Linked DNA regions of Homo sapiens. The protein of the gene in region 5 purifies or fractionates together with the protein of the main gene of each other region. This does not show direct contact. Each region holds a gene or a part of one and is shown on either strand. Other genes may lie near its edges. The genes, in order: FBXL16, LPAR1, CHRM4, HPN and HPF1.

The links.
Region 1: the proteins of HPF1 (region 5) and FBXL16 purify together in Homo sapiens (co-immunoprecipitation; one large-scale study listed by IntAct). This does not show direct contact.
Region 2: the proteins of HPF1 (region 5) and LPAR1 purify together in Homo sapiens (co-immunoprecipitation; one large-scale study listed by IntAct). This does not show direct contact.
Region 3: the proteins of HPF1 (region 5) and CHRM4 purify together in Homo sapiens (co-immunoprecipitation; one large-scale study listed by IntAct). This does not show direct contact.
Region 4: the proteins of HPF1 (region 5) and HPN purify together in Homo sapiens (co-immunoprecipitation; one large-scale study listed by IntAct). This does not show direct contact.

Annotation. Positions count from the first base shown.
Region 1 is NC_000016.10:698,237-704,743, forward strand, and holds part of FBXL16 (F-box/LRR-repeat protein 16), read right to left. Parts: intron 1-6,507. UniProt on the Homo sapiens protein: Substrate-recognition component of the SCF (SKP1-CUL1-F-box protein)-type E3 ubiquitin ligase complex.
Region 2 is NC_000009.12:110,939,089-110,945,595, forward strand, and holds part of LPAR1 (lysophosphatidic acid receptor 1), read right to left. Parts: intron 3,081-6,507; coding exon 2,333-3,080; coding exon of another isoform or gene 2,253-2,332; exon of another isoform or gene 824-2,252; intron 1-823.
Region 3 is NC_000011.10:46,384,343-46,390,093, forward strand, and holds part of CHRM4 (muscarinic acetylcholine receptor M4), read right to left. Parts: intron 2,245-5,751; 5' UTR 2,216-2,244; coding exon 776-2,215; 3' UTR 1-775. UniProt on the Homo sapiens protein: The muscarinic acetylcholine receptor mediates various cellular responses, including inhibition of adenylate cyclase, breakdown of phosphoinositides and modulation of potassium channels through the action of G proteins.
Region 4 is NC_000019.10:35,060,179-35,066,685, reverse strand, and holds the end of HPN (serine protease hepsin precursor), read right to left. Parts: intron 6,340-6,507; coding exon 6,174-6,339; intron 6,060-6,173; coding exon 5,869-6,059; intron 1,437-5,868; coding exon 1,341-1,436; intron 1,148-1,340; coding exon 1,005-1,147; intron 819-1,004; coding exon 654-818; coding exon of another isoform or gene 603-653; exon of another isoform or gene 444-602; intron 438-443; coding exon 399-437; 3' UTR 113-398; downstream 1-112. UniProt on the Homo sapiens protein: Serine protease that cleaves extracellular substrates, and contributes to the proteolytic processing of growth factors, such as HGF and MST1/HGFL. Plays a role in cell growth and maintenance of cell morphology.
Region 5 is NC_000004.12:169,742,728-169,749,234, forward strand, and holds part of HPF1 (histone PARylation factor 1), read right to left. Parts: intron 6,116-6,507; coding exon 6,017-6,115; intron 1-6,016. UniProt on the Homo sapiens protein: Cofactor for serine ADP-ribosylation that confers serine specificity on PARP1 and PARP2 and plays a key role in DNA damage response.

The DNA.
Region 1 (6,507 bases), on a different chromosome or scaffold from region 5:
AAGTGATCCACCCGCCTCAGCCTCCCAAAGTCCTGGGATTATGGGAATGAGCCACCGTGCCTGACCGGAAACCTTTTTGTTTGCCCAGTGAGGCGAAGAAACGCCGACACTTTTTAGCACTTAGGTACCATGATGGCCATTTTACAGAGAAGAAAATGGAGGTGGACCTGGTGAGGCCAGGACTGCTCTCTTGACCTCTCTGCTGTGCCGTCCACTGTAGGTACCCACCAGGCCCACCCCTCTGGGCAGGCCAGGGGAACTGAAGGGAAGGGTCTGGGGTGGCCTCTGGCCCCTCCCCTGCAGGGTGACTGCACAGCGCTCAGGAGGGGCTCTGGTGCTGACTCTGCAGCCACCCTCCACATGCACAGGAGCTTCCCTGGCTCAGAATCTACCCAAGGGGCTGGGTGCAGTGGCTGATGCCTGTAATTCTAGCACTTTGGGAGGCTGAGGTGGGTGGATTACAAGGTCAGGGGTTTGAGACCACCTGGCCAACATGGTGAAACCCCTTCTCTACTAAAAATACAAAAATTAGCCGGGCTTGGTGGCAGGCTCCTGTAATCCCAGCTACTTGGGAGGCTGAGGCAGGAGAATCACTTGAATCCAGGAGGCGGAGGTTGCAGCGAGCCGAGATCACACCACTGTACTCCAGCCTGGGGAACAGAGTGAGACTTTGTCTCAAAAAAAAAAAAAAAAAAAGAAAGAAAGAAAGAAAAAGAAAAAAAGAAAAGAAAAAGAAAAAAGAATCCATGCAAAGAAAGGGCGGGCATCTTCCCAGGGTGTGCTGTGGTGCCAGCATGGTTAGCCCTGGACACAAGCTGTCGCTTTAATCTTCTGCCCAATGAGAACGATGCTGTGATAGCTGTACCCACTGCACAGATGAGGAAACTGAGGCCAAGGCTGGGCAAACTGCCTGCCCGAGGTCATGGCCAGATAAGTGGTGAAGCCAAAGTTCGGGCAGAGCTGGCTGAGGAAGGCCATGCGGAGGTTATCTTCAGGCCAGCGACATCCACGCACAGGGTGGAGTGGGAGCAGTCCCGGGCACCCTCCTCAGGCCTCCAGTCTGTAAGTGGGTGGCAGGGGGCACTGGGCACAGCCACGGAAAGAAGCAGAGGTGGGACCCTCACTGTGCCACCATCTGCTCCACAGTTCGGATCTCCTGCCGCCCCCACCCCGACATCCGGGGAGGAGGTAGAGCCCCTGGGGTCACACGCCCTGGACTTGAAATGGGCCCCACCCTGGCTCTGTGGTCTTGGCAAGCCACTTCCCTTCTCTGAGCCTCAATTTCCTCACCTTGAAGCCTGGGGAGGTGACGGTACCTGCTCCCTTGGGGCATTGCAAAGTGAACGAGCTCAGTGCGTGGCTCATAGCAAGGTCTGGGAGAGTGATGTCTGAGCCCCACGGCCACACTCCAGGGCAAAGCAAGATGCATCTTCCCCGGTCTTAGGTGACTCCAGGACTAAGCCTGGAGCCTCATGCAGGTCCTGCCTTCCTGCCCCAAAATCTCAGAGGAGGGGCCAAAGCCTCTCCCAGCCCACCCTGCCCCCTCCTGCCACAGCCTCACTGGAAGGTCTCTTGGAGCCACCAAGGGGGTGTCTGAGAGTCTCCCACGAAGATTCCAACGCTTGGGGTGGGCCCTGCAATATGCAGACTCTCAGGAAGAGGATGGCTCACATCTTTTTGGCTGAGTGTCCCTTCTGGGGCTACAGGGCCTGGCCTGCTCCACCACAGAGAGTGGCGGGGTCTCGGACGGCACTGCAACCCCAAGGCCCGCAGCCCATTCCCCATAATCTGGTCAGGGGGGAGGGGAGGCAGGGAGGCAGGGAGGCAGTGGGAGGTCCTGCCCCGCTCTTCCCAGCAGCAGGTCCCCACACTGGCTTCCAAGCCCCAGACAGGGCCAGCCTTGCCACCGGTCCACATCTGGGGAGGGGGTGTAGACCGGAGCCGGGACCAGGGGTCTCGCCAGAACACGTGGCCCTCGTGGCTGAGAACCCAGCTTTGGGTTTAAAGTCCTTCCTGCCCTAATGGCAGGAGCCCCAGCTCCACCCTCTGTACCATCTCCCCCTCCCCAGAGTATCATTCGGGTCCTGGAAGGTGAGGCCGGGCCCTCCACAGAGGAGGCACCCACAGCCGGTGACCCCCATCATGTGCCCATGATCAGAAGGCGCGGCCTCCGGAGGCCGACATCACAACGTTTGCAAGGGCCGGCTGGGGTCGGCACATGATTCGACCTCACGGCCGCCCTTAGGGGTGGAGGGGTCGCTACCTCAGGTTTGGGGAAGGAACACGAGGCTCTGAGGAGCGAATTTGCCCCAGGTGTCCGGGGAGGCCTGGCGCGGGGCTGCCTCGGTTCCCTCCCAGAGCCGGGGAGAGGGGATATCGCAGGATGCCGGCGCCCGAGGCGGCAGCACCAGGCCCACGGGCGCCCCAGTCTAAATATCCTCCGTGCCCCTAGAGCGGGGACCCTCGCTCCCCAGACCCGGAAGCGCCGCCTTCCCCGCCAGGGACGCCTGGGCCTCCGCAGACCCCGCCGGCCGGCGCGCCACCCGCGCCAGCACCATGGACAGCGGCCGCCCCAGCCGCGCGCTCAGGGCCAGGCCCGGGCTGGCTTCCACCGCGGACGGCTGCGGGGTCGGGGCAGCCCCGCAATCCCAAATCCCGGCAGCCCCCGCTCAGCAGGGAGGGGCCCCGGGGGCGAAGAGTGGGGGAGAAGCCGGGAAGGATCCGGAGGAGGCGGCGGGGGCGGCGCCAGGGGAGGAATAATCCCGGCGCAGTGCCGATTTAGGTTGAAAACGCTCCCAGTCATGGGCCTGCACGTGGAGCGCCGGGGCTGGGGGAGGCATTCGCGGGGCTCCTTTCCCGCCCCGCTCGGGAGCTCACGTTTGCCGGCGCCCACAGTCCCGTCCCCACCTCCAGGCCTCAGGGTCGAGATGGAGAAACCAAGCCGCACTTTGAGAGCCCACAGGAGGGAGGGGACAGGCTGAGGAGCGGCCGTCTGGGTATGGGTCCGGGGCCTGGCTTCCCTCATCCACACCCGCAGCGCTGCCAGAAGGCGCTGCTCTGCCTGTGGTCAGCCCTCGACCCGTGTGCTTGGTGGGAGCTGCATCCCCGCACAGGCAGCCCCACTGCTCCCCAATCTCGCGTCCACGTTCCTGCCGGCCCCCGCTGCTCCTCACACTCCCGGCTTGACTGACTCAGCCCGAATATCCCCCACCCCGTAGCTCAAAAATGCAAACAGCCACACACTTTGGCCCAGGCATGGGCGCTGCGGGAGAAAGCTGAGCTCAACTGGAGACTGGGGTCTCTCTGCCCGTTCAGCGAGAAGTCCCTGGGGGCTCACACAAGGGCCCCTCTGCTTGGCCCTGGGCCCGGCCCCACCCACCCAGCCAGACGGTCACCAAGGAGCCGGTTCCCATGGCTCACAGAGCCCCCTTTCCTGCTTGGCGACTGTGAGAGCCCTCGTTCCACCCAGAGGGGCTCGGACGACCTGCGTGGGCTGCTAGGGACTGCCTCTCCCTTTAGGGACAAGCAGCCCGGGTGCTAATACGGGGAAGAGACTTGTTAAAAAGGTGGCCATGCCTGCACCATCCTCAGCCTCAGCCCCTGTGGTGCTGGCTCAGCTTGAAGTGGAATCCTGTCAAGGCTCCGGGGCTCACCCCAGGGGAAAGAGAGAGAGGTGGCCCCACCTCAGCTGTCTTGTCCTCAGCAGCCTGAGCCTGGCCTGGGAGCTGCTGGGGAGAGGTGGCCGTGGCCTCTGTGTCCTCCCCAGGGGACGCAGTGTGAAGCGTGTGGCCAGAGTGAGCCTAGGGAGCACGGTGGGGCCTGGGTGCTCCTGGGGGTCCCCACATGTACATGTACAGCATCCAGGCTGACCATTCCCAGACGGCCATGTGGGGGCCCCGCAGGAGCTGCCTCTTCTGCGAATCAAGTCACTGAGCCCGGAGACCTCAGCTCCGGCCCCTTCCCAGCCCTGATGCCACAGCCCAGCCATGCCATTCCTCCTCCCCTGCTCCTCTGCCTGGGCACACGCCGTTCCCCCTGCTTGCCTGGCAGGGTTTCCCTGCCTTAGCCCTGCAAGCTCTTCTCCTCCATCCCTCAGTTCCTGGTGCGAGGTCGCCCCTGCCTCCTGCTCCGGGACCCCCAGCTCTTGAGAAAGCGTCTCCAGGGTCTTGCAATCACATGGGTTATCATCACTGTCCACCTGGTGTCTCTCCTCCTGGCCTGAGGACTCTTGAGGACAGACAGCACCAACGTGCATGGCCTCTGCATGTTCGCGGAATGAATGAATTAGGGAACGAATGAATGAATGCGGAATGTGGCTCCGCTAGCTCAGTCACGCAGAAAGGGGTGCAGCTGCCAAGGCCCCCGGAGGGCTGATGGAGGATTGGTCAAATTTAGGAAGAGGCCGGTCAGCGGGGAAGGCACAGCTCGGGAAATTAACCCGGATCGTGCCATGGCCAGTGTCCGCGGGGAGAGTGGCCTCTGGGGTTGGGACTAGGTTGGTACCTGAGTCACTGAGAGGGCTCCCAAGACCCCAGGGCTGGGGTGGGCCTTGCAATACACAGAGCCTTCGGATGAGGAGGGCCCATCTCCTTTTCAGCTGGCTCTCTCTTCAGGAGCTGCAGGGCTGAGGAAGTGGCTGCCCGTCCTCCACCATCTGGCCTGAGCCAAGAGAGGGAAGGGGGTCCTCCTGCCCCGCTCTCCCTGGCACCACACGCACCCCTCCTCTGACCGGCCAGAGTCCTTCCTTCACACACTGCCTAACTAGGAGTGGGGAAGCAGAGCTTGCAGACGGATTTTCCAGAAGTTACATAGAGCTAGGATTGGCTCCAAAAGCCCCGGGGCTGGCTGATTCCCTCTACCTGGGTCCTGCCAGGTGTACCTCACAGGGTCCTCGCTCTGCCCTGTTCTGCCTCATGGGGTCTCGATGCCTTCCTGCTGGGCCCTGGGCTAGTGGTCTCTCCAAGTACTGCCCTCATCCTGCAGGGTCCCTGCCACGGCGCTGCATTCCTTGCAGAGGCTGCACACCGCGTGCCCACCCCTGGGACATCCTTTTGGACACATGCCTGGGAAACCTCCTCACCCCTCAGCGCCCCCAGTTTGAAGGTCTCTTCCCCCATCTCTGGTGCCCCCATCTCTGTCAGCACCAGACTGGGGCACAGCCTAACCAACCACTCAGCCCTCATAGAACCTCAGGGACCATTGAGCCCTGCCTGCAGAGGGCCTTAGAGCTGGGCAGGGCCCTGGTGGCCAGAGAAATGCACATCGGGCTCCATCTGCAGTGGCAGCCCCAGAGCCTGGCTGACAGCTGGGGTGGCTGGGGATTGGGGACAGGGTGCAGACTGACACATTCCGTGGCAGCCCCGTGACGCAGGCACACCCGCGTCCCTGCCACTTGGCACGTGGCACAGCGGCAGAGCTCCTCTCCCGCCCCCAGTTTGAGATGCTTCTGGGGGTGCACCAGGGGCTCTGAGGAGGGGCACCATGGCGCAGCAGGCACGTGGCCTCAAGAGAAACCCGTGTTGCTGCCCCAGCAGACTGAGGGCCCATGGTCAAGCCCAGGGCAGCTCAGCCTTGAAAGCTGGACACCCTGGGGAGTGGGTGCTGGGATCCAGGCCTCATCTCAGCCCCTGCTCGGAAGAGCATGAGCACCCTCAGAGGCGAGGCCTGGGCCCCTAGTGCCTACTGCTCCAGGCAGCTGCCACTAACCATCACCCCTCTTTCCTGCCCAGTGAAGGAATGAGGCCTGAACCCACACATTGCAGCCAGTTTGGCCGTTGACTCCTCCTGCACCACTGGTGGGGAAGGCTCAGTCACCTGCTCACCCACAGAGCTCCCTTCACTGCCAATCCAGTCATGGGAGGCACAGCAGTGGGTGCCCACATGCAAGGAGATGGGGTCTTCGGGTGGCTGAACAGTGCCACCTGGGTGGGAGATCCCTAACTCTCAGCAACACAAGGCTTCCTGGGTCCATGTCCAGCTGGTTCAAGGGCCCCGTGCCTCCCACACAGGAAGCTGTTTGTGTCCTTCTCATCAGTGGGAGGTAGGACTCGTCCAGCCGCCCCGGAAGTGGGTGTGAGCTGGAGGCAGTGAGTCTGTCGATGGAGGGGCTGAACTCAAGGGTCTGGCCCCAGATGAGGGGCAGTTGGGGTGGCAGGGGGCAGGGAGTGGGGCAAGTGAGTCCTAGGGTTCCCCCACACAGCGATGTTTGCAGCTGGGCCTTGAATTTCCCTCCCCTCCAGGCGGCTCCAGGTCCAGCCCTGTGTCCACCTCTGGCCAGACCAGCCAGGTTCCACTAGGCCTCTGCCCTGGTCCGGGAGACAGAAAACCCTTCAGTCTCCTGGCCTGACCCAGGCCTATCTGCTCCAAGGCTGCTGTCCAGCACCCCACAGAGGGGGTGGGCTGGGAGACGGCCCTGTGTCCAGGGAGGCCTGAGCTGCCCCTGGCCATTGGGCCCTCGGATGCACGGGTGTGGGGGAAGGGCCTGAAGGAAGAGGCAGGTGAGGTGGC
Region 2 (6,507 bases), on a different chromosome or scaffold from region 5:
ATTTTGGGGTTTGCCTACATTATGACAAGACCAACCCATGTCTCCCATGTAACCGTGCCTATCTAAGGATGGACACTTACAATTCAAATAGGGGAGCATACTGTAGGAATGGCATTAGGCACCACGCCTTGAAAAACATCTGTTAGGATTGTGACTTCCCCATTCTAAACTTTCCAACCACTCCCTGCCCACATCCTGCCCATTCTCTTATTCTTGCTACTTTTCTCAAAAAGGCTACGGTCCATTTAATTTCTGTTTCCTATATTACAATCTTATTCCCATCTTTCTTCACCAAATACCTTCACCTATCACCGTGACGGGGTTTTCCATGTTCTGAAAGTTCTTCCATCTCACAGCTTTAAAAATCATGCTCTTTATTCCAGAGATGTCAACTGCATTCGATCTTTGTGGAGTATACTAGTTTAAATATTATTTCTGTTATTTTAAAGTTAGTGGTTGTGCAGTGGTAGTAGTTGGGCATGGGAAAGTGGCATTTAGGGCAAATGTACACTGAAACACTAGCTCCTATAGCCTCAAAATGATTATTTCAACCTGAAAAACAACCCAAAGAGGCACAAAAGTATGTGAATCATTCAGTACATTGCACACTGGAATACACAAGATATTATACAAAGGTCAAAATTAAAACAAGAACTTGGCAGGTTAATAGTCCAAGTTCAGTAGTCATTTGCTGCTGGCAATTCTGCAAACTATGAGTAGCACTTGTCGTAATAGAAAAAGTTCATGCATATAAAAAATGTCAACCAACATTTAGGTCATCAGCAAATAAATATTTGAGTCAATACAGGAAAAAAGTCTCATGTTATTTAATGTCTCATGTTTTATTTCATACAAAAATAGCATCCATGGTAAACAAAGATGTGTTTTATCCACATCATGGAAAATGTGGCCTTGTGGCACAGGTGTGCTTAAGGTCCTGTTAATAAACATACAGAGAAACCATTTTTGTAGTTCTACTAATCTTCATTGGATGCAATAAGACAATCTCATATCTGAGGTGATGGGGTCCTCAGTGTTTCAGTTAGTTAGGCAGGGTTTTAGGTGTGTCAGTGATCCCAAGGCTTAGTTGCTATTCTCACAGGTCTACAAGAGGGTCAACAATGAGTATAGCTGAAAATGATGTCCATGATGCAGTCATCCTAACCAAAACAGACGAGACCTATGCATCAATCTGAATACTACTTTATATAATGATCAGCAGGACCCTGTCTCCTTCCAGTGGCTAAAATTAAGGTAATTCCCAGAGTTTCAGAGGAGCCACATAATCCCATGTTACATTCACCCAAAAATGCTATATAAATTGGAGCACAGAGAATTATAGGAACTTTCCATTGAATTTCTGTGGGGAAAGAGGAGGTGATAAAATGTTTTTTTTCAATTTCCATAGGGAAAGATGAAATGATAAAAGGTTTTCAAAAAAGATTTTTTAATGTGATCAAACGTTAACCTGAATATAGTCTATGGAGAATGTATAATTCCATTGGGTAATTATTTTAAAAAACTCTCACTCTACTCTCAGCTCCAAAGGAAATGTCTGTATCTGTCCTTTTCATGGAGCCAGCACAGAGCGTAGAACATAGTAGGTGCTCTTTAACTACCTTCTACACACATAAGTGAATATATTCTTCTTGATCACTACTATGAATTTTTCATCCAAGAAAAACAATGCTTATTTAAAAGCAGAAGGTATTTGAGTCTACAAATCTTGCTCTTCACCTTGAAATATGAATTAACCTCCACTACTACAAATAGAAAATTAATAGAAAATAAGGAAGTTTTCATGAAGATGACTGTCAGAGAATATCATTAATTCCAATCTGTTTTGTTCAGTAAATCTATATAAAACCTTGATATACTACCTATAATGTAGCAACAATTACAGAATAGACTAACAAAAATAACTATATATGGAAGCATATTCATATTCTACAAAAGCACTTTCTGTCTGAAAATATGTAATACAGAAACCACAATGCAAAAGTTTCACAATTTAGGCTGTAAGAAAAATGAATGAGTTTGACTGGTAATTCTGGTATTTTCAATATTAGATAGCCAAACTCTTCAATGACATCTTTTACATCATCATCATTTATACTGCACCACTGGGACCCATGTTTCCCTAACGCTAATTCTATAATTTTAGGAAGACTCATAAGCTGACATTTAATATAAAGGTGCCTCATCCCCTTGTAATTCCTGGTGAATTACCTGGTGAATATTCATACTGTTGGTTACCTCTGACATAAAATAATGTGGTTTATGTTAGTCACTGAGAATCTATAAAGTAAGTTACAGTCAAGACAGAACTTACCAAGCACAATGACCACAGTCTTCAGAAGACTCATCATGGTATCCCGATTCCGCCGGGGTCCAGAACTATGCCGAGACATTCTCATAGTCCTCTGGCGAACATAGCCAAAGATGTGAGCATAGAGAACCACCATTACCACAAAGGTCACCAAGTTGAAAATGGCCCAGAAGACTAAGTAAGAGTCACTGTAGAGGGGTGCCATGTTGGAACAATTTTCAATATCACAGATACAGTTCCAGCCCACACTGGGTATAGCACCCATAACGATGGCCATAGTCCAGATGACCACAATGACCACCACTACCCGCCGGTTGCTCATCCGTGTGTGGAGCTGCATGCGGAAAACCGTAATGTGCCTCTCGATTGCAATAGCCAGTAAGTTGGCCACAGATGCCGTCAGGCTGGTGTCAATGAGGCCCTGACGAAGGAGCCATGTGCTAACAGTCAGTCTCCGAGTATTGGGTCCTGTGTTGAACATGAGATAGAAGTAGGCCAACCCAGCAAAGAAGTCTGCAGCAGCCAGATTAGCCATTAGGTAATAAATAGGAAAATGGAAGCGGCGGTTGACATAGATTGCCACCATGACCAATAGGTTGGCCAACATGATGAAGATACAAACAGTGATTCCAAGTCCCATCACCAGCTTGCTGACTGTGTTCCATTCTGTGGCAAGATGCTTTCCACTTCGGTTATAAAAGAAGGCAATGGACTCGTTGTAGAAGCACTGTGGTTCATTCATGGCTGTGAACTAAAAGAAAAAGGAGAAAAGATGATGAAAAAGAAGGCACAGGTCCAAATTTAAAGCTTATATAGATAACACAAGACTTTTATAGTACATGCAACAGAAAAACAAAAGCAAATAATTTGAACATTTGATCCTGCATACCATCTTGTGATTATGTTGAAACTCCAAGGTTTCTCACAATATTACTGTCCTTAAGATTAAAGGCAGTTGGAGTTAAATAAATGACAAGGTCTCTGCTTAGTGGTTTTATGTCATTGAAGTCTACTACAAAAGCCACATGGCCAAGAAATCTTGCTTAAAATACATGAGACAGACAAAAATTTTGCAGAACATTGCAATTGGAATATTTACCATAGTAAAATCTATTTGACCTGTTATTTAGGGAATCTGTAAACACAGTTGGTTTCTAGATAGGGTATCATTGCCCTATTATTCTGCATTTCTATTCTCACACAGTATGTTCCATGTGGGACAGACATTTTGTAATGCAGGTTCCCACAAGGACCATCATTCCAAACATTTCAAACAAGTCACTGTGCATCAAAGGTTTTTTGCCCAAAGCCAGCATTTGCTGCTCAACATTCCTGTGGTCAGCACTGCCTACCCCCACAACTCCTTAAGTTCAGAATAGGACTTGTCAACCAATCTATGACATTTGAGAATTTTTTTTCTTTTTGGAGGACCCAACGTAACCTCCAAAGAGTAGGTGACCCTTTGACAATGTTCTACAAGTAAAATATACTTAGATTAGATGCAGCATATTTTTTAAAGTGTGGAGTGAAAATGCTTTATAACATGTTTACTTATTCTTCAACATCATTGATAAGAATATATTTGCTTATTATTTACAATATTTATAATAATCACTTTAAAAAGGATTGAGACAGTTTAAAACAGAATAATATATGTTTATTTATCTATCATAATATATAATATATAATTATATATAATTATAATATGTAATTATATATAATAATATATTTAAACAAAATTAGAAAATAAGTAACAAACTAGAAATTAGAAAAGTATACATCACATAGAGTAAGTCATTCTTCTTGAAGCTCTAAGTTTACCTGGGACCCCTAAAATTAAAAAATATATCTTGAAGACGGTTCACATTCTACTTTTTCATTTTTATTTTGCTTTGAATCTAATAAATTACCCAAAACATATGACACTTTTAACCACTATTTTTGATCAAATATTCTACTGAATATCCATAGGTTGTACACTAAAACTTCCAAGAACAACGTGAAATACTTAAGTGGTTAGTCTTCTGACTTACCCAGGCATCTAAAGTCTCTTTCCTTATCTAGACTTTAATAGCTTTTAGATTATGCTTCAAATATTATACTTAATACATTGTATAATTATTTATCTCTTTACTTGTCTGCTTCTTAAAGAGATCACAGTCCAGGGCACAGTGGCTCACATCTGTAATCCCAGCACTTTGGGAGGCCAAAGTGGGTGGATCACTTGAGGTCAGAAGTTCGAGACCAGCCTGGCCAACATGGTGAAACCCCCTCTCTACTAAAAATACAGAAATTAGTCAGACATGGTGGTGGGCACCTGTAATCCCAGCTACTCAGGAGGCTGAAGCAGGAGAATCGCTTGAACCCGGGAGGTGGAGGTTGCAGTGAGCCAAGATCATGCCACTGCACTCCAGCCTGAGTAACAAAGCAAGACCCCAACTCCATCTCAAAAAAAAAAAAAAAAAAGACAAAGTTGATCAAGCTGTTTCCCCACTGGACATGTTTTAAGGGCTTATGAGTGCACGTTAGATAAAAGTCTAAACTTTTCAATCATCTTATCAGACCTTACTTACCTGCCTCTCCAGCCTCAACTCAAGATATTAATGACTCCAAACTCTCAGCTTCAGCTCTATTTAATGTGCTGTGCTCTCTCTCTCAACTCTGGTTCTCAACAGTGAAAACAGTGGTTTCTTGTATCAGAATTACCTGAGAGTTTGTAAAACACTGATTGCTGACATAACCCGCAAGAACTTCTGATTCAGTAGATCTGAGGTAGGGTCCCAAGTAATGCCAAGGCTGCTGGTCCAGGGAATCACTGTATCATAATTGCTTAATTATCTGTTGATCCCCTCTACACTAGGCTATGAAACCCTATAAACGCAGAGATTCTAGCTTGCTTATTCATTGTTGTATAGTATCCAACTGTTCTATGGACTACATGCTAAATACATATTGATTTCCTTAATAAATTAAAGATATTTCCAAAAATGTTTAAACTTTACAAATTTTCTTTCTGCAAAGGATATTTAAAACTTTGTCAAGACAAATATAAAAGTCTGTTCTTTTCATTAGTCTCTATAACCATCTACCTTCTCTGAATCAAGAAATGTTTAAACCAAATATCAAGCGTATATTATTTCCCAGCATTCCAACTTCTGAACACCAAGTAGCAACAAAGTTAAGCAGAGATATATGCAGCTTCTTAGCCCTTCCCACAGAGAAAAACGATAAAGTTAAGGATGGCAAAATTAAGAAGTATAAATTATCTCTTTAAGCCACAATGTACAAAGATGAGTAAAACTGACAGATTTTCTCTAAAGGTAGAGAAAAGTGCCCTGTCCTATGCCATTTCTTTTCTCTCAACAATTGACTGTAATACCATAAAAACCATACATATTTAATGATAAAACTTAAATGATTTTCGAAACTCAATTTTATCATCTGTGAAATGAGGAAATTGGACTAACTTATACATAAGGTCTAGTTCAGATTTAAAATCCTATACTAAGAGGATTCTGGATAAGAACGCTATATTTCATGAAAATTAGCAGCTAAATATTGAAAGAGTAGAAAATACACCAGGAATTAAAAATTGGGAGGGTATAATATGCCTGAGAAGAAGTGAGAGGAATTTCAGTTAGTTTTATGACAATAGGACTGAACTGATAGAGGAATTAAACCTCCTCTCTTATTGTCTGCAGAAAGCAACAGGTCAAAAGAATAAGCAGTGGAGACCCTGAAAGCACCTCCAATGGCAGTAAGAAGGGCAGTGTGAATGGGCTTTCCTACTTCTTCAGGAGCCGACAGACTTAGGCAGAAAACCTACATGGTTCAGAGAGAATCCAATTTAACTGCAATTGGACTATAGGCCAATAAGATAGTCAGGGCTATAATGACAGAAAAATAATTATGGAACATAATGGGGAAAAATGTAATCAAAGGAGGTGGCCACTTATCTCTCGCCAAAGAAGAAATCACCTCCCACTGAAGCAGATGTATGGGAGGGGAAAAAAAGAAGAGATAGAAAGAGAAAAAGATTAAATGATGGGACATCTCTGATTTGTGTCCTCAATGTGTTTTGTTAACATAGTAACATTGAAAATAGAACAAGCCATTATGAAGACAAAAGAAATCAGTAAAAACATCACAAAAATAGTTTTTTATTGCTACTTTAACAA
Region 3 (5,751 bases), on a different chromosome or scaffold from region 5:
TGCCATCCACCACAGCCTCACCCTGACTCGATGTGTGACCTGGGACAGCCTTCTAAGGCCGGGGCTGCAGGGGGCTGTCTTCTGAATACGTGGACCACTCACGGCTCAGCCTGGGATCGCAGAAGGCCAGACCTCAGTTCCTGAGACAGAACCTCTGACCTCCCAGCTGCCCCATCTTAATGTGACAAGGGCAGTGCTGCTGGGGCGGGGGGGACCTGGCCTCCATCATACCCACCCAGAACCTGGCTAAGTAGCTGCAGCCAGAGGAGATTTCTGCCCCTGGAGTGGGATTTGGGGAGAGGGGGCTGAGCCTACATGCGGGGTGCAAGGGGGCAGAAAGCACCGATTACAGCAGAATGGGGGACCCCACCCTTCTACTCCCTTCCCAAGCCTCCTTTTCCAAGCACTGGCCCCTTTGTTCTTCCTGAGGGGGCCCTGGGCTTCGGCCCCCATCCAGATGTCCATTCTTCCAGCACTGCTGATGGTTGGTCACAGTGGGGCAGGTGCCCACCCAGGCCAGTGCCCCGCAGCTCGCTGAAGCAGGGCCACAGAGGTGGGCCAGGCAGCCCCAGTTCAGACACTCCCTGGGGTGAGCCTCCTCAGCCTGAGCAGAGATCTGGTCTCTGAATGCAGCCACAGAGCCTCTTCTGAACTTCCTCCTCAGCAAACGTGAACGCAGAATGGTGCCTGCAACTCTTCCCCACAGCAAGTGAGCCGTGTGGTCCCCCCAGCACACGCACGCAACACCAGCACCTCCTAGGGCACTCCTGCCTGCCTACCTGGCAGTGCCGATGTTCCGATACTGGCACAGCAGCAGGTGCCGGAAGGTCTTTTTAAAGGTGGCGTTGCACAGAGCATAGCAGGCAGGGTTGATGGTGCTGTTGACGTAGCAGAGCCAGTAGCCAATGGACCACACCGTGTCAGGGATGCAGCTCTGGCAGAAGGTGTTCACCAGGACCATGACGTTGTAGGGCGTCCAGGTGAGGATGAAGGCTAGCAGAATGGCAAAGATCGTTCGTGTCACTTTGCGCTCCCGGGCCGCCATCTGCCGCTTCTTGCGCACCTGGTTGCGAGCGATGCTGGCGAACTTGCGGGCCACGTTGGCCGCAGGGCGCATGCCAGCCGGCGTGGCAGGCACAATCTCAATGGCTGTCACACACTCATTGCCTGTCTGCTTCGTCACAATCTGGATCTTGGACCATCTGGAGGCTGGGTTGAGGGCCCGCGGCTGCAGGGGAGGGGCGGGCATGGCGGGCGTGGTGGCCTCTGTGGTGGACAGCTCTGTGGCTGGGCGTTCCTTGGTGTTCTGGGTGGCACTGCCTGAGCTGGACTCATTGGAAGTGTCCTTATCAGCCACGGGGCGCGGTGGCGGTGGCAGCGCTGGCGGGGGGGCCTCCTCCAGCTTGCCATTGCGCAGCTCCTCCCGGGCGGCCTCCCCGGGCGGGGGCTTCTTGACGCTCTGCTTCATTAGTGGGCTCTTGAGGAAGGCCAGCGTCTTGGCTTTCTTCTCCTTCGGGCCCTCGGGCCGGTGCTTGTGGACTCGGCTGCGACTGGCCAGGGAGATGTGGATGTACAGCACCGTCATGATGACCACAGGCAGGTAGAAGGCAGCAATGGCTGTGCCAAAGGTCACTGCTGGGTTGGACAGGAACTGGATGAAGCACTGGTTGTCGGGCACCGTCCGCTTACCCACCACAAACTGCCAGAACAAGATGGCAGGCGCCCAGAGCACGAAGGACAGTACCCAGGCAGCAGCAATCATGAGGCCTGCCATCTTGGTGGTGCGCCGGGCAGGGTAGGTGAGAGGCTTGGTGACGCAGAAGTAGCGGTCAAAGCTGATGATGAGAAGGTTCATGACGGAGGCGTTGCTCACCACGTAGTCCAGGGCCAGCCACAGGTCGCAGACCACGGCGCCCAGGGGCCAGTAGCCCTTGATGATGTACACGGTGTAGAGGTTCATGGAGAAGGCGCCTATGATGAGATCAGCACACGCCAGGCTGAAGAGGAAGTAGTTGTTGACTGTCTGCAGCTGCCTGTTGACCTTGATGGACAGCATCACCAGGATGTTGCCCACGACAGTCACCAGGCTCAGGGAGCCTGTCACTGTGGCAATGAAGACCATTTCCACCGTCTCATAGCGATTGTGGGATGATGACGTGACCAGGCGCACGGACTGATTGCCCGAGCTGCCATTGACAGGTGTGAAGTTGGCCATGTTGGTTGCCAGGGGTGGGTAGGCCGTGTCTGGGGAGGAAGGGGAGAGAAAAGCATGAACTACAGGAGGGAATGGGGGAGTCATCTGGAGGTACACTGGATTCAAGGTGACAGAGGGACATTCTCTGGCAGAATGCCTTGAGAGAACTCTGTCCCGCCATCCCGCATTTGCCCATTCATTCAACATTAATTGAGCACCTACTATGTGGCAAGCATTGCTCAGGGTGCTGTGGCTACAGAAGTGAATAAGACACACATGGCCCCCTGCCTCATGGGGGGAGACATGCAAACACGTGAGCCACAAAAGAAAAAAAAGGCAGGGTGATGAGAGAGTGAGTCAGAAGGCAGGACAGGCATGACTCCTTGCTAGGTGGCCTCACCCACCAGGTCATCTGGGTGATGAGGAGCCAGCCACAGGAGGAGCTGTGGAGAGTGGCCCTGCCAGGGGCAGTAGCCACAGCAAAGGCCTGGAGGCAGCGCAAGGCCTGGACAGAGGCCAGTGCTGGGGGAGCTCAGGGAAGCAAGAGGAGGAGGAGAGTGGTCCCAGAGGCCCACGAGCATGTGGGCTCTGGAGGGAGGTGTTCTGTTCATCCATTTACCCATTCGGTCATTTCTTAACACCTGCTCTCCAACCCCTGTAGAAGACACTGGGACAAAGGCAATAATCGGGGTATGTATGAGCACCTAACACTGATGGTCTACTAAGTGCCAAGCACTTTTGACACTTAAAAAAAGTGTCTATTTATTTATCTATTTATTTGTAGAGACAGGGTCTTGGTATGTTGTCCAGGCTGGTCTAGAACTCTTGAGCTCAAGCCATCCTCTCACCTCCTGAGTAGCTGGGACTCCAGGCGCCATCATGCCTGGCAACATTTTTTATAGTGTTAACTCATTTCATCCTCATAACAAACCTATGAGGTAGATACCATTTTTTCTCTACTACTTACAGATGGGGAAACTGAGGCACGGAGCTGTTAAAAGCCTGACCAAGGTTTCACGGCTTCTTGCACTATGTTGCTGGTGGGATTAAGTGCGGGGTGAGGTGGTGAGAGGAAGGCAGTCCCGTAACTTAAGAGCTCTGGCTGAAGGAGGCCAAAGAGCTCCAGGAGCCAGAAGGCTTTGCAGGGGACCAGAGGCGGTGCATGGAGCTGGGCACCCCAGAGAGGAGGAGAGTCCCTGCAGAAGGGGCTTCAGGAGGTACCTGCAACTGTCACATCCCCTTCAAGGAGTCCTCAGCTCCAGCCACAGGGCATGCAGCTGGGAGGGAGGCAGTGCAGGGGTCACTAGGTTGTCAGAGAACCCTGAGGCCCAACTGGGGACCCGTGAGGTGAAAGAATTGTCCCAGAGGGAAGAGAAGGGCTGCCAGGGCCGCCTCTCCCCTCCACAGTCCACTCCGCACACCGGGCGGCGCCCTAGCTGGAGTCCCCACCACAGGCCCTTCCCTGAGCCTGCCCTCCCTCCCACCAGGCTCCTCTTAGCTCTCCTCCCCCTCTTCCTCTTCCCTCCATGTGAGGGAGGCCCACGCCAGCTCTGAGTGCCAGGGCAGCCGCTCAGCCCAGCCTCCTTCACACCCGCCAACACACACACCGCTCCACAGACGCACGCGGGCCCATCACAGCCACGCCAGCCCAGCAGGCATGGTCGGATACGCAGTTCTGTGCGTCTGTGTGTGAGAGGAAGAGAGGGCGCGGCAGCCGGCTGTGGAGGAAGGAGCACTAACCCGCAGCCTGGGCTCTGGCTCTGTGGCCTGAGACGATCCACTGCCCCTTCCTGCACCTCTTTCTCATTTGCAGAATAGAGAGGATCCTGTCCTGGGACATCCTCCCCAGCAGCTATAGGGATTGGCACCTAAACTTGATCTCTATACATAAACACAAAAATGTACTGCAGGCTGGGGCCAAGGGCCAGGGTAACTGCCCCAAGTCTGACCCCAGCCCTTCTATTCCACCGTCGCAGATACAGACCCAGCCTCCTAGCCTGATAGTTCAAGTTCTCCTGTTCTAAATCCTTGGTTCGTAGGAGGAGAGGCTGAGAGCAAGTGTTGTCACCCCCAAGGTCACACAACGAGTCAAGGGCAAAGACCACATACTGCCCTCTCTTGGGGTCCCTGACAACCCCATTTGGCTCTGAGAGCCTCTGAAATAGAAGCTCAGGTGTCACTCTCTGAGCTGTCCCCTCCAGCACCAGGAGGCTGCCCTCCCCCAATCACTCACGTGGAGGAGGGGACAGGGCAGGCAGGAGTAATCAGTCAGCCAGCCCCAAGGAAACTCACTTCAGCCTCCCAAGGCAGGATACAGGGCAGCAGGATGATAACAAACGGGGCTAGAAGTGCAGAATGTGAAAACATAATAGCTCTTGTTTATTGAGTGTTAACTGCGTGTCAGGAACCCCTCTGAGCTTTTAATATAGATTATCTGGTTTAATCCTTACAACAGCCTGAAAAGGCAGGTATTATTAGTGTCCTCATCTTACAGATGTAAATATCCTCTTATAGATGAGGATAATGTTAATCAACTGGCCCAAAGTCACCAGGTTAGGAAGTACGGGTGGGGGCAGAAGAACCCGGGAAGCTCCTTCTTAAAGTCCAAGGTGCTACTGCTCAGAGTTGACCTCCTGCCTCTGCTCCCCTCGACCCGAAAACCACACAACTGAGGGACTGTCCAGGTGAGGCTTGGGTAGGGTCCCCTCACATTCCTGCTGGCTTCTCGACTTAGCTTTCCCAGAAGACAAGCGATGTCTTGTCTTCTCCCAGATCCTGGCGGCTGGGCTGAGCCGGGACCACTGGATGGCCGGTGATTAAGTCCTGCTCTTGGCCCGCGTGAGGGAGCTGCCAGGTGCTGACAGGGCGAGGCTCAGGGTCTCCCCGACTCCGCCCCGCCCCAGCTGTCGTCGTTTTGGACACCTCGGGGTCACCCGCAGACATTCCGACCCCCTCTGGCGCCTTCCCTGGAATCCAGATACGCCTGGCATCTGGGGAGCGAGCCGCCGCCGCCGGGGCTGTGCGCACCGCTAGATGGCAATGTCGGTCCCTGGTGCCCGCTCCGGACCTAGACCGTGCGGCCGCCGTTGGCCACCGCCCCCAACTCCAATGCGACTGCGAACCCAGAGGAGCCCTCAGGCACAGCCTCCCGGGGAAGTGACGCGGGGTCCCCTCGCCAGGCCCCGTCGGACGCCGCCCCAGAGCTGCCCTCGGCTCCGCGCGGGGTTCTCGGGTGGGAAAGTTGAGGGAGCCCGGATTCCACCCGGCACCCTGCGAGGAACGTGTGGGCGGGAGCGCGAGTGCGAGTTCTGTTTGTGTGTGCCTACGGGGGAGCGCGAGTAGACGCTAGTAGCTGTATGCATGTGCGTGTGTGTGCGCACGGCCACGCCTGGATACCAGTCCGCCCGTGAGAGCGCGTGAGCATGCCGCGCCGTGTGCACACGTGCATGTGCATGCGTGTGCGTGCCTAGGGTGCTGTGGCCGGGAGGATGCACACGGTTCGGGTGCCTCTACACCTGTGGACTTGCATGCACAAGCAAATGCAGGGCCGAGAGTGG
Region 4 (6,507 bases), on a different chromosome or scaffold from region 5:
GGAACTGAGGGACCCACACTCTCTGTCTGATTTGCGCCAGGTCCTAATTCTTCTCTTCCTTCCTGACAAAATGTCCTCATTGCTGTGTACATTTGTAAGCTCGGAGGCCACATTAATCAAAACCATCTTTATTATTTAAAGAGCATCCCGTCATCAGGGGCACCTAGACAGGAGTCCCAGACAGCAGAACAATATTTACATGGGGGTCAGGAGGGTGAGGTTGGGTGGTCTCGGGGCTGAGTGGGCCCGCCACTGTGGAAGAGAGGACCCTGGAGGGAGGGTGTCCTTGGACCTGTGGACCGGGCCCAAGAAGAAAAACGTCCCATCCTAGGCCCAGCGTGGATCCCACCACCGGGATCACCTCGGGCCCTGGAGGCTGCGCAGCGAGAAGCCACCGGTCAGAGCTGGGTCACCATGCCGCTGGCTTCGGAGTGAGTCTGGGGAAAGACAGCTGGGGGCTCCCGAGGTCTGAGAGGCTTCCACGTCCCACCACTGGCTTCCCTTCCCCAGGAACCCTTCAAAGTCCATCTGTTCCCAAGGGGGGCCCTCTTCTAGGCCTGAGCGTAGGTTTCCTAAAACAAATCTCTGCCTCCCTTCCCCCATTAGACACCCAAACGTCCCCACCCTGGCTCCCATCTGGACCCAACTTTCACCTTTATGGCCTGGAAGATCCACTCCCGGAAGTCACTGACTTTGGTGTAGACGCCTGGCTTCTGGGCCAGGGCACAGCCAGTGCCCCAACTCACAATGCCACACAGCCGCCAACGTGGCGTCCGAGAGATGCTGTCCTCACACACAAAGGGACCACCGCTGTCGCCCTGGGAGGGGAGAGGGAGGTCTGGCTGAAGGCCAAAGTGGTTGGACAGGAGGCCCACCCCGGGATGACATGGGCTGTGGCCCCAGAGCCCTCAGGCTTTTAGATGGGGAGCCTGACCACCCACTCCCCTGCATCTCCATCCCTGGGGTGGCAGCGACCAGGGGGCTGCCCCTACAGAGTCCCTCACCTGGCAGGCATCAATGCCACCCTCGGGGTAGCCAGCACAGAACATCTTGGGCTTGATCTGGTTTCCATAGAAGTCAGCGCCATTGCAGACATCATTGCTGATTATGGGGACTCGAGCCTCCTGGAGTACCCCGGCCTGTTGGCCTGGGGGTGTGCAGGCAAGGCTGGCCAGAGCTGGGGGGTGTACACACCCCCCTTCCCTCCTGGTGCCCACCCCATTCCCCTCAGCGTCCCTACTCCTCATGGTCAAGACTCATCCAACCAGCCAGACTGCCCATCCCCAGCCTAGTTCAGAGTCTCCCAAACGGTGGCATCAGAGGCAGAGGACAGGACTCACCATAGTACTGCGTGTTGCCCCAGCCCGTCACGGTACAGATCTTGCCATCCACCAGGGCCTGGCCGGCAGCTGGGAGGCACACAGGCTGGATGTATTCTGTGAGAGAGACAATGCTGGTCCAGCCCCCGCTGGCCTGCCCCACCTGGTACAAACCTCTGTCCAGCTGCTACCATGGCCCCTAACACACCCTGCCCTCTCTGTTCTTTAAAAAAAAAACCACAATAGGCTGGGCACAGTGGCTCATGCCTGTAATCCCAGCACTTTGGGAGGCCGAGGCAGGAGGATCACTTGATGTCAGGAGTTTGAGACCAGCCTGGCCAACGTGGCGAAACCTCATCTCTACTAAAAATACAAAAATTAGCCGGGCATGGTGGCACGCACCTGTAATCCCAGCTACTCGGGAGACTGAGGCAGAAGAATCACTTGAACCCAGGAGGTGGAGGTTGCAGTGAGCCGAGATCATGTCATTGCACTCCAGCCTGGGCGACAGAGCAAGACTCTGTCTCAAAAACAAACAAACAAACAAAAAAGCCACAACGGAAGTCGCCACGTACCAAGAGCTCATCGCATACTAGGCGCCTTCCTGCACCATTTTCTTTAATGTTTCATCAGCCCAGAGAGGTAGGGTCTATATTATCCCATTTTAGAGAGGGGGAAAATGAGGCCAAGTCACGTGTCCAAAGTTTCATAACATGTATGTTTTAACACAGCTTGTTTTCATTTCTAAGCCTGCAGTGTCACCCAGGCCAGAGTGCAGTGGCAGGAACATGGCTCACTGCAGCCTCGACCTCCTGGGCTCAAGCAATCCTCCTGCCTCAGCCTCCCAAAGCACTGGGATTACAGATGGCAGGTGCCTGTAATCCCAGCTACTCAGGAGGCTGAGGCAGGAGAATCGCTTGAACCTAGGAGGCAGAGTTTGCAGGGAGCCGAGATTGCGCCATTGCACTCCAGCCTGGGTGACAGAGCAAGACTCTGTCTCAAAAAAAGAAAGAGAGAGAGAGAAGAAAGAGAGAGAGAGAGAGAGAGACACTCCTATCTTGAGACATTTGACTTCCACCTAGCAGAAAATCATAATAATAAATACACAGGTCTACAGAGAGAGTGGTAACCCTGAGATGTGGTGTCCTTGTGCAGTGCACAACCTATGCAAGGGTTCCTGGCAGCCCTGCCTGTTGCCTGCTGCCTGCTGCCTGCTGATGACATCACCTGCCTGAGTCTTAGAGCTCTCAGATGTAGAATGGAAATAATAATCACTTATCCCCAGAAGTTGTAGTGAGAAATTGGTGAGTCATTGAGTTGCATGCCAGGCAAACAGCAAGTGTTCATATAACTAGTAAAAGTATTAAACAACAATAGTAGCAATTGCTAACATTTACCAGTGTTCACTATGTGCTGGCAGTTCTCTAAGCTCTTTACTCATATTAACCCTTTTAATTGTCTCAATAACCCTAGGAAGTCATTTTACAGATAAGGGAAACTGAGGCACGGTGAGGTGAAGCCATGTGTCCAAGATCACACAGTTGGCAAATATCTGAATCTGACCCCAAAGCCCATGCTGTGACCCCCTCAGCCCTGTGTCTGAAATCCCAGCCGCTTCCACCTGTCCACCTGTCCTCAAAGATGCGTCCTTACTTCAATATTAACTCTCTCACTCTTTTCACTAAGGAGAAGGGTGTGGCAACGATCTTGGCTCACTGCAACCTCCACCTCCTGGGTTCAAGTGATTCTCCTGCCTCTGCCTCCAGAGTAGCTGAGACTACAGGTGCCTGCCACTACACCTGGCTAATTTTTGTGTTTTTAGTAGAGATGGGGTTTCACCACGTTGGCCAGGCTGGTCTCAAACTCCCGACCTCAAGTGATCTGCCCGCTTCAGCCTCTCAAAGTGCTGGGATTACAGGCGTGAGCCACCATGTCAGGACAGGGTTTGGTTTTAAAGAAAAGCATGTATCACTCCCTTCAATGGGAAACCAGTACCACAGATCATGAAAAATAAAATAAACATAAAAATAAACATAATGCCAACCCCAACATGGCCCTGGATTCTCCGTCACCACAGCGTGGGGGCCACAAGCACAGATTCCAGTGCCAGTCCACCTGGGCACAAATCTTTGCCGTTCACCAGCTGTACGAATTTGGGGCATTGTTTGCCTTCTTTGGGTTGGGACCTTTTCCTGGGTGGAAAACAGGATCTTAAGAGAACCCTCCTTACCAGGGTGTGCTGGGGTTGCTGTGAGAACTAAGTGAGTCCATACACAGGACATATTTGGAATGGTGCCTGGCACACTGCTATGTTTACCAGATTATTTTACTGTGTTGTGTACACTCATCATGTACTCCCTTATTCCCTTTTACTACTTCATGATCATGAACTCGCTATACTCGAATACTCAATCATGAACTCGAATACTACTCGCTATTACTACTTCATGATCATCATTATCACCGTTATTATTATTATGTTCTGAGACAGGGTCTCGCTCTATCAACCAGGCTGGAATGCAGTGGTGTGATCATGGCTCACTGCAGCCTTGATCTCCTGGGTGATCAGGTGATTCTCCTGCCTCCGCCTCCCAAGTAGCTGGGACCACAGGCGCGCACCACCACAGCCAGCTAATTTTTTTTGTTTGTAGAGATGGGGTTTTGCCATGTTGCCCAGGCGAGTCTTGAACTCCTGAGCTCAAGCGATACCCCCACCTTGGCCTGGGATTACATGCCCAGCCTATTTTTATTATTATTATTACACTGCAGCCTGCTGAAATCTGAAGCCCAGGGCCTGCTTTTAATCCAAAAGGAAGATGTATGTGTTGGAGAGGTGTTAAGGACATGTTGGCACCTAAGTGAGTCTCAGTAAGACCAAGGGAATACTCCAGGGAATTGCAGAGGGAATGACTCCTAACTTACTTTCTAAGTCTGATTCATTCATTTTTAACACATTTTCTTTTCATTTTATTAGTTTTTTGGTAACAGCTTGATTGAACTACTATTCACATATTAGACAATTCCTTTTAAAGGCACAAGTCACTGGCTTTTTGTGTAGTCACAGACAAGTGCAACCATGATCATGATCGACTTAGAATCTTTCATCACCCAGACAAGAAACCTTGTGTCCTTCACCAGTCACCTCCCAATCTCCCATCCCCACCTCCCACCCTGCCACCATCAATCAACTTTCTATCTCTACCGATGTGCCTATTCTAGACATTTCTTTTCTTTCTTTCCTTTTCTTTTCTTCTTTTCTTCCTTCCTTCCTTTCTTTTCTTTCTCTTTCTTTCTTTCTTCTTTTTTTAACAGACAAGGTTTTGCTCTGTTACCCAGGCTGGAGTACAGTGGCACAATCCTAGCCCACTGCAGCCTCAAACTCCTGGGCTCAAGTGATCCTCCTGCCTTAGCCTCCTGAGTAACTGGAACTACAGGTATCCGTCACCACACCTAGCTCATTTTTTTAAGTGATGGGGTCTTGCTATGTTGCCCAGGCTGGTCTTAAACTCCTGAGCACAAACAATCCTCCCATCTCAGCTGCCCAGAGTGCCAGGATTACAGGCGTGAGCCACCGTGCCCAGCCTTGTACATTTCATACAAGTGGCATCCTACAGTATGTGGCCTTTGCGGCTGGCTTGTCTCATTCAGCACTGTTCTCAAGTTTCATCCTTGTGGTAGCATGAATCAGTACCTCATTCATTTCTATGGTCCAATATTCTCCCGTTGTGTGGATATACCACATTTTTTTTGTTATTTATTTATTTATTTTCAAGATGACAGAGCCTTGCTCTGTCAGCCAGGCTGGAGTGCAGTGGTGTGATCTCGGCTCACTGCAATCTCCACCTCCCGGGTTCAAGAGATTCTCCTGCCTCATCCTCCCGAGTAGCTGGGATTACAGGCGTGTGCCACCACGCCAGGCTAATTTTTGTATTTTTAGTAGAGATGGAGTTTCACCATGTTGGCCAGGCTAATTTTTGTATTTTTAGTAGAGATGGAGTTTCACCATGTTGGCCAGGCTAATTTTTGTATTTTTAGTAGAGATGGAGTTTCACCATGTTGGCCAGGCTGGTTTCAAACTCCTGACCTCGTGATCCACCCACCTCGGCCTCCCAAAGTGCTGGGATTACAGGCATGAGCCACCGCGCCCGGTCAATATACCACATTTTCTTTATGCATTTGTCCGATGAAACAGTCTTGGGCTGTTTCCATCTTTGGGCTATTATGAATAATGCTGCTATGAACACTGATGTACGAGTTTTGGTGCAGACACAGTTTCCATTTGTCTTAGGTATATACCTCCTGTCCTGGGAGTGGAAGTGTTGGGTCCAATGGTAACTTTATGTATACTTCTTGGGGAAATGCTGGCAAATTTTCCAAATTGGCTGCACTGATCATTGATAGTTAAGGCCCACTTTGTGCTCCCTCGAGATCATTCCCCTTATTGCCAAGGATGCCTGAGCCATAAGTTGATTGCCTTGTGCCCCTGGTCCCCTCCTCTGTCCTCCTGGCCTCGGGTCCTCAAGCCCCATGGCTCAGCCCTTAGACTTACCTGTGAGGGGCAGGGGACTGGAGAGGTGGACCAGGGCAATATCGTTGCTGTTCTCCTCGCTGTTGGGGTCCCGAAAGGGAAGATAGCCCCCGTGGTAGACCACAGCCTGCACCCCCAGCTGCAGACCGTGGGGAGAGGCCTGGGCCACGGCACCGGCAAACACTCGCCATCGGGACAGGACCCGGTTCCGCCTACCAGGGAAAGGGGTGGAGGGTGGCCACCTGCCTGGGCACAATCCGCCCTCCTCCCCACTGTCTCTCCGCTCCTCTGCCTCCCCATCATCAGCGCCATTGGGGGGCACTCACTCCGGGAAGCAGTGGGCGGCTGTCAGCACCCAGTCCCCGGAGAGCAGGGATCCCCCACAGAGGTGTGCTCCATCATAGCGAAGGCTGACTTGCCACGGCCACCGGCCCAAGCTGGTGTCCCGGCCTCCCACGATGCGGTCCACGGGCAGCTTCCTGCGGCCACAGTCTGTGGGACAAGGGTCAGCAGGGGGCGGCGACAGGGGACTGGAGCCCAGGTCCCCAGAGCCCAGGCTTGGCCCTGCCCTAGGGGGTCTGAAAGTACATGGCCCCATCCTGGGGAGCTTGAGGGGACGTGGCCTCCCCAAGGGCCTAAAGGAGAGGGTTCTGAGTTTTA
Region 5 (6,507 bases):
CTTGCAGTGAACCGAGATCGCGCCACTGCACTCCAGCCTGGGCCACAGAGCAAGACTCCGTCTCAAAAAAATATATGTATATATTTTCAGGGACCAGGCATGGTGGTCCATGCCTGTAACCCCAGTACTTTTGGAAGCCGAGGTGGGCGGATCACTCAAGGTCAGGAGTTGGAGACCAACCTGGCCAACATAGTGAAACCCTGTCTCCACCAAAAATACAAAAATTAGCTGGGCATGGTGGCATGCACCTGTATTCACAGCTACCCGGGAGGCTGGGGTACGAGAACCACTTGAACCCGGGAGGTAGAGGTTGCAGCCATCCAGTCAGCCGAGATCGTGCCACTGCACTTCAGCCTAAGACTGCCTCAAAAAAAAAAACAAAAAACTGTCTTTTTTTCCGAGATGTTGTTTCATTCTTGTTGCCCAGGCTGGAGTGCAGTGGCAGGGTCTCAGCTCACTGCAACCTCCACCTCCCAGGTTCAAATGATTCTCCTGACTCAGCCTCCCGAGTAGCTGGGATTACAGGTACATGCCACCACGCCCAGCTAATTTTTGTATTTTTAGTGGAGACAGGGTTTCCTCATGTTGGTCAGGGTGGTCTCGAACTCCTGACCTCAGGTGATCCATCTGCCTTGGCCTCCCAAAGTGCTGGGATTACAGGCGTGAGCCACTGCCCCTGGCCTTTTTTTTTTTTTTTTTTTTTTTTTCATTTTTAAAGAGACAGGACACTATTATAACACTAAAGGTCGATAGATTTTTTTTTTAATGTTGAAGTTTGTGTTAAGAAAAATTTAGAAAACACAAAAGGAAAGCAAAGCTACTTTGTAAGCTTATACAAAAGCATAATCCAAAGTAGTTCTCAAAAGTATGTGAATATATATCATGTTAATGCCACTTATGGAAATAATTTTATATTTTGTCATAAACAGGTTAAGATTTTTGCCATCAATATAAAAGGTCAGGAGTAAAATGAAGAGCGGCAAGAGTGTGCCAGACTTCCAGGAAGAAGGCTGAGGGAGTAACAACTCCTAGGAAGAAACTCACTTCTATTCACTGCCAACATCTGAGAGTTTGTAGTATTCCCTGCAACACTGTTAGGGAGTTAGAACATTTATAGTGGGTGCTAGTCTTAGCTTCATTGTACTTATCAGGAAAAAAAAAAGGCACAGAGGATAGTCAACTTACCCAAGTTGAGAGAGCTAATAGATTAAACCCGTAGAGTTACCAGTAGAACTGGTAGATTAAAATGCCACAGAAACCCAAGCCATCAAAATCTAACTTCTGATTACAGCACACGGTTACACTAAATCTTACCTTCAATTATTACCAGCTGTATGTCTAGAGGGTATTTTTATATCAACCATAAAATACAGATTTGATCATGTCAGTCCTATGTGAATCAATCGATCTTTACAGTCTTCCTCAACACTCTGGCACGGCAATATAGCCATTCAAGTACCCTGTGCCACGTATTTTCACACTTTCACACACATACTGCTCCCTTACCTAAAACATCCTTCTTCCCATTCTTTCTAGTAAGTTCTTAGGCATCCATCAAAGCCCACATAAAATATCCTCTTTTACCTCTGCCACTATTGAAGGCACTTGGTAGCTGCCTTCCCATACATATGACATTATTATGACTATCTCTGTAAGTTTTTGTCTCTGCCGAAACCTACTCTAACACTTTACTGTGTGATGCTTAAAGATAAGGTGCGATGTGCAACTGAAGCCATAACCATGAACGTGAACATTTTGTGCTGTGACTTTAAATCCATTAGAATGTCTTCAACGCAAATGAATTTGTACCCATGCATGTTATATGGCATCATGCAATGGCCCTTTGGAAATAGTGGTTTACTAAGTTATATAGATGTAAGTGTTGAAACTTATATATCAAATTCATTACATAACATTATGAAAAAAAGCTATTGCGCTCACAGTGGTATTACAAGTTTCTCAATCTAATTTTTATTTGAAACCCTGAATTTTATCACTGACAAAAAATATAGTCAGTTGTTTTCTTTGGTTCATTTGAGAGAATTCCTGCCAGTAGCTAGACCCAAATAACCAGTTTGTCAATGAGTCACTCTTTTTTTTTTTTGCATTCCAATCTTGGGTTTATTCAACACAATTCTTCCACTCTACACAACAAAGTACAAACACAATGTCATCTAAAATGCTACAAAGGTATAAAACTCAAAGAGAAATTTTATAGTACTGACTGTACAATAAGAAAAAAAAAGAAAAGCAATGTACATGTTGCCAAGATAACCTGAAAGACCACCATGAAGGACAGGCACAACCATGGCTGCGGGATGACCCCACAGAGCTGGCTCTCAACTCACTCGCCAATTTCAGAGTAGGGTGGTGGGGTGGTGTGTGTGCATAGGTGCACGGACAGACAGAACCATGCACAGCAACTACCATGGGTGAGAGGATCTTTGGGGGTGTGTGACCCTTGAAGTCGGAAGAGGCCTCGAGAGGCCGGGCCTAACAGGGTTGGCAGCTGCACTAAACCCTGGGGCAGCTCCCTTTCCAAAAGGACACTGCCCAGCGACAGCAAGGGCACGGCCTGGCCACCATCCCAGGTCATCAGGGAAGGGAAAAGTGTGCTCCCAGGTAGGCAGGGTCAAAGCACCCCCAAGAGTCTTACTTGTCCCTGGTGGCTCTGCCACTGAACTGACTCTTAGAAACTGGAAATGGGTGAGCTTTCTAGCCAGAAAACCAGAGGGAATCTTGACAGGCACACAGTCAATGAGTCACTCTTTCTAAAAGTGGGGAAAAGTTCATCTCAAAATTCAATCATACAAGGGCTTTTTTTTCCCTTGAGACAAACCACAGTACTTCAGTATGAGAAATGCTTTCTATGTATTTCCTATTTCATCACAGAATGTTAAAGAGATGAACTCAATGGTAGACATCTAATACATGTATACTCCAACACTGACATTTTTCAGGCACAGGGTCTTGCTATGTCGTTTAGGATGAACTTGAACTCCTGGGCTCGAGCAATGCTCCCACCTCAACATCCCGAGTAGCCACCATGCCTGGCTCCATCACAAACATTTTTAAATACATTTGCATGTTACTGCTGTGAATAATGCAATGACTGCTGCTACCCTGGTGGCACTATCTTGATTCCTGCCAAGGTGACAACAGTATTATCCACTATTTACTTTGTGCCATTGGTGCAAAAATAACATTTTATTATCACAAATAGTTTTGACCTTAAGGGTCCCTGACCCAAGGTCAAAACTGTTTACCCCAGTTATTTTAGGAAAATAAATAAGGCAGAAGGAAAAAAAAAATCATTCCTTTGTTGTTCAAAGTTATTTAAGAATTATGTTTACTTCCATATGCATTAGACAGTATGAAATGGAATCATTCTACACTATTGTTATTTGCCCACTTCATAACAAATTCAACAAATCAATACCAAAGTATTATAGTATATGGATAGTTTATATTTACCTAATCTTCCCTATTGCTGGATATGTTGCCAATTTTTCATTTGATAAACAATCTGTAATACACATATTTCTGTACCTGTCCAAAATCCCTTTAATAAACAGCTAGAAGTGAAATTGCTAACTTAAGGGTATAAATGTGTACTTCACATAGTACCTGACAATGTCACCTATTAAGAAATCTTAGAATATGCTTTCTAAGTTAACATTTTTCAAATGTTAACATTAAACATTTTTCAAACTGCTTTCTACAAAAGTTTTACCAATTAACACATCAGTAAGGGTTCTTATACCCTAACCATCATTGGTTATTACCATTCTTTAACCTTTAAAAAAAATCTTTGCTGGTTAAATTGGCATTTCTTTAGTTACTATTAAATCTTGCAGACACAAGATTTAATAATAACTAAAGATAAAAATGTGTTGATCAAAGGTATGCCTTGAAAGACCTTATTCAGTCTGCCATAAAAATAAATTTTAAAATATATAAAGAAATTAAGTGTTCTGGTTAGCTGATTTAAGGAGGTAGTACCTAAAAAACTAAAACCGTTATAATACTTTAAAAGTACTAAAATAGTTATATCTCAAGTAATTTTTTACCCCTGTTTGAGATAAATTATTGGAGGTAGTTCCTCAAATACTCACTTGCTGATCTTCACCTAAGTTATAAATATCACCCATGCATTTTTTTTTTCTTTTTCATTGTCTATGTTCTCCAATTAGCTTAAAAAAAAAAAAAGATACCAGAAGAGTCTTGGGTTATGTTACATGACCACTATTATGTTATCTTTTTTTAAAAAAAAAAAAAAACATGACTAATAACACAAATGAAAAGTTAGGCTTGTTTTTCGAAAAAGAGACAGTCTCACTATGTTGCCCAGCCTGAAAAAATTAGGTGTTTTTACATGCCAAGGTATTTATAGAATTAATATTTATGGAGCATCTAGTATGGGGCAGATACTCTGCCCTCGTGGAACTTAACATGCTAGTGCAAGAGACAGACAATAAGCAAGAAAACAACAAGAGTTTCTAATAAAGATGGCACCAATTTAAATTGAATGATAAATCCAAAGAGTTTAAAAGAAGTTATAAATTACAAATACCAAGTAACATTTTATAGGAAACTGAGAGGTATTAGAAAAGAAAGAACATTTTTGGACATCTACAATGTAGCTGCCTTGTAGATACACCAGTATGTACGTAGCATAGTCTAGTGGTTGTAGTAGGGTGATTTAGTTTGAATTCACTTTACTGCAAATTTGTATGATCAAATCACAGGGAACAACAGCCCTTTAAAGAGACAGTACTAAAAGAGGTCAAAGAAAAGATAATCTACTTGTATTTGAAGTGATAAAGTTTGCTTTCTTCATTACAATGCAAACTACACAGCTGCTGACAAATAAAATGGCTTCAAGTCATGTCTGTGGCTGATATAGCACAGACTGGCTCACTCACCTCTATTCCAACCCCTTCCCCATGAAAGTTCACTGCATTTCCCATACTACTCTTTAGCTCAGGCTCCACATGGGACCTATCTTCTTCCAAGCAGCTGCAATACTTTGAAATCTCAGAGGCAGAAGAGATACCACATGGAGGCTGTGCTTCCACGATCTCCATCAATGAGCACAGCTGTAGAGGCATCTGATGGTTCTGCAGCAGCTGTAGCTGAGATCCCAGCACCTGGTTCTTAGCTTCACGGGGGCTGAGAGGCAAAGAGTAGGGCATCCATTTACCTGGCCCAGATTATACCAAAGATAATGTGGTCCTAGAGCCACTCACTGTGGCAGCAGTTCTCGAATTCCCAGCTCCCTGATGGTGGCAGAGACAAAATCCACTGTGAGCCACACAACTGTCATTCCTGGAAGCTCAGCCTGCTCCCTCAACCCTTCCAAGGATATAATGACCACCTCTTTTTACTTTATTAAGCCTTTCTGTTTGAACCATACATAAGAAATAAACTCTTAACAGGTGTTTAAAATCAGATGTCTAACAAAACTGTTGATGTTGCCATGGAACACCTGAGGTCAAGTATTATTTTCGTTAAGTAAAATAGTTACATAAGAGGTGTATTTTTTTGGTGAAGAGGCACAAAATAACAGTATAGATAAGACTACCTGCAAAAGTCATGGAAATTATCTCTAGAAATCTACAATTATGGGCTTGTCTCAAATCCGCTTTGTTTTTTTTTTTGGAGATAGAGTCTCACTCTGTCACTCAGGCTGCAATGCAGTGGCGCAATCTCGGCTCACTGCAACCTCCGCCTCCTGTGTTCAAGCAATTCTCCTGACTCAGCCTCCTGAGTAGCTGGGATTACAGGTGTGTGCCACCATGCCTCCAGCTAATTTTTGTATTTTTAGTAGAGATGGGGTATACCCATGTTGTCCAGGCTGGTCTCGAACCCCTGACCTAAGCGATCTGCCCACCTCGGCCTCCCAAAGTGCTGGAATTACAGGTGTAAGCCACTGTGCCCAGCCCCTCAAACCCCCTTTGTAATGGACTAATGTAGTATAAACATTGTAAACAAATATAAATTAAAATATTCTTACTTGACTGCAGCAAATACATTATCTCCATTTGGAACAATTATACAATTTTTCTTTGCTTCATTTATACCAACATATACAGGAAATTCATCAGGAGAATCCCTGTGTAAGCAAAAGACATTAAAAATTTAGCTGCCCATAATTTATATTATCAGGCAAGTGGGATTTCAGGTCTACAGACAACAATTTACACCTATTTTTTTTCCTTTTTGGAGGCCTTTTTTTTTTTTTAATCATACCAGAATTTATCGATTACATCAAACAAAAATTTCTGTAATGGAAAAGGCAAGTTGCAGTCATAAAAGATGGCATTCACATTCATTTTAGAAAGCAACAACGTAGATGTAAAAAATTGTTTAAGTGAAAAATGTAATATTGCAGTCCCATTTTGCAAGCTGAAAAATTTTGTCAACACACATAAAATCTGCACATTTACATACTGCATGTTAAAAAATTCCATCACTAAAGTATTATAAATATTGCAAAGTTAGGCT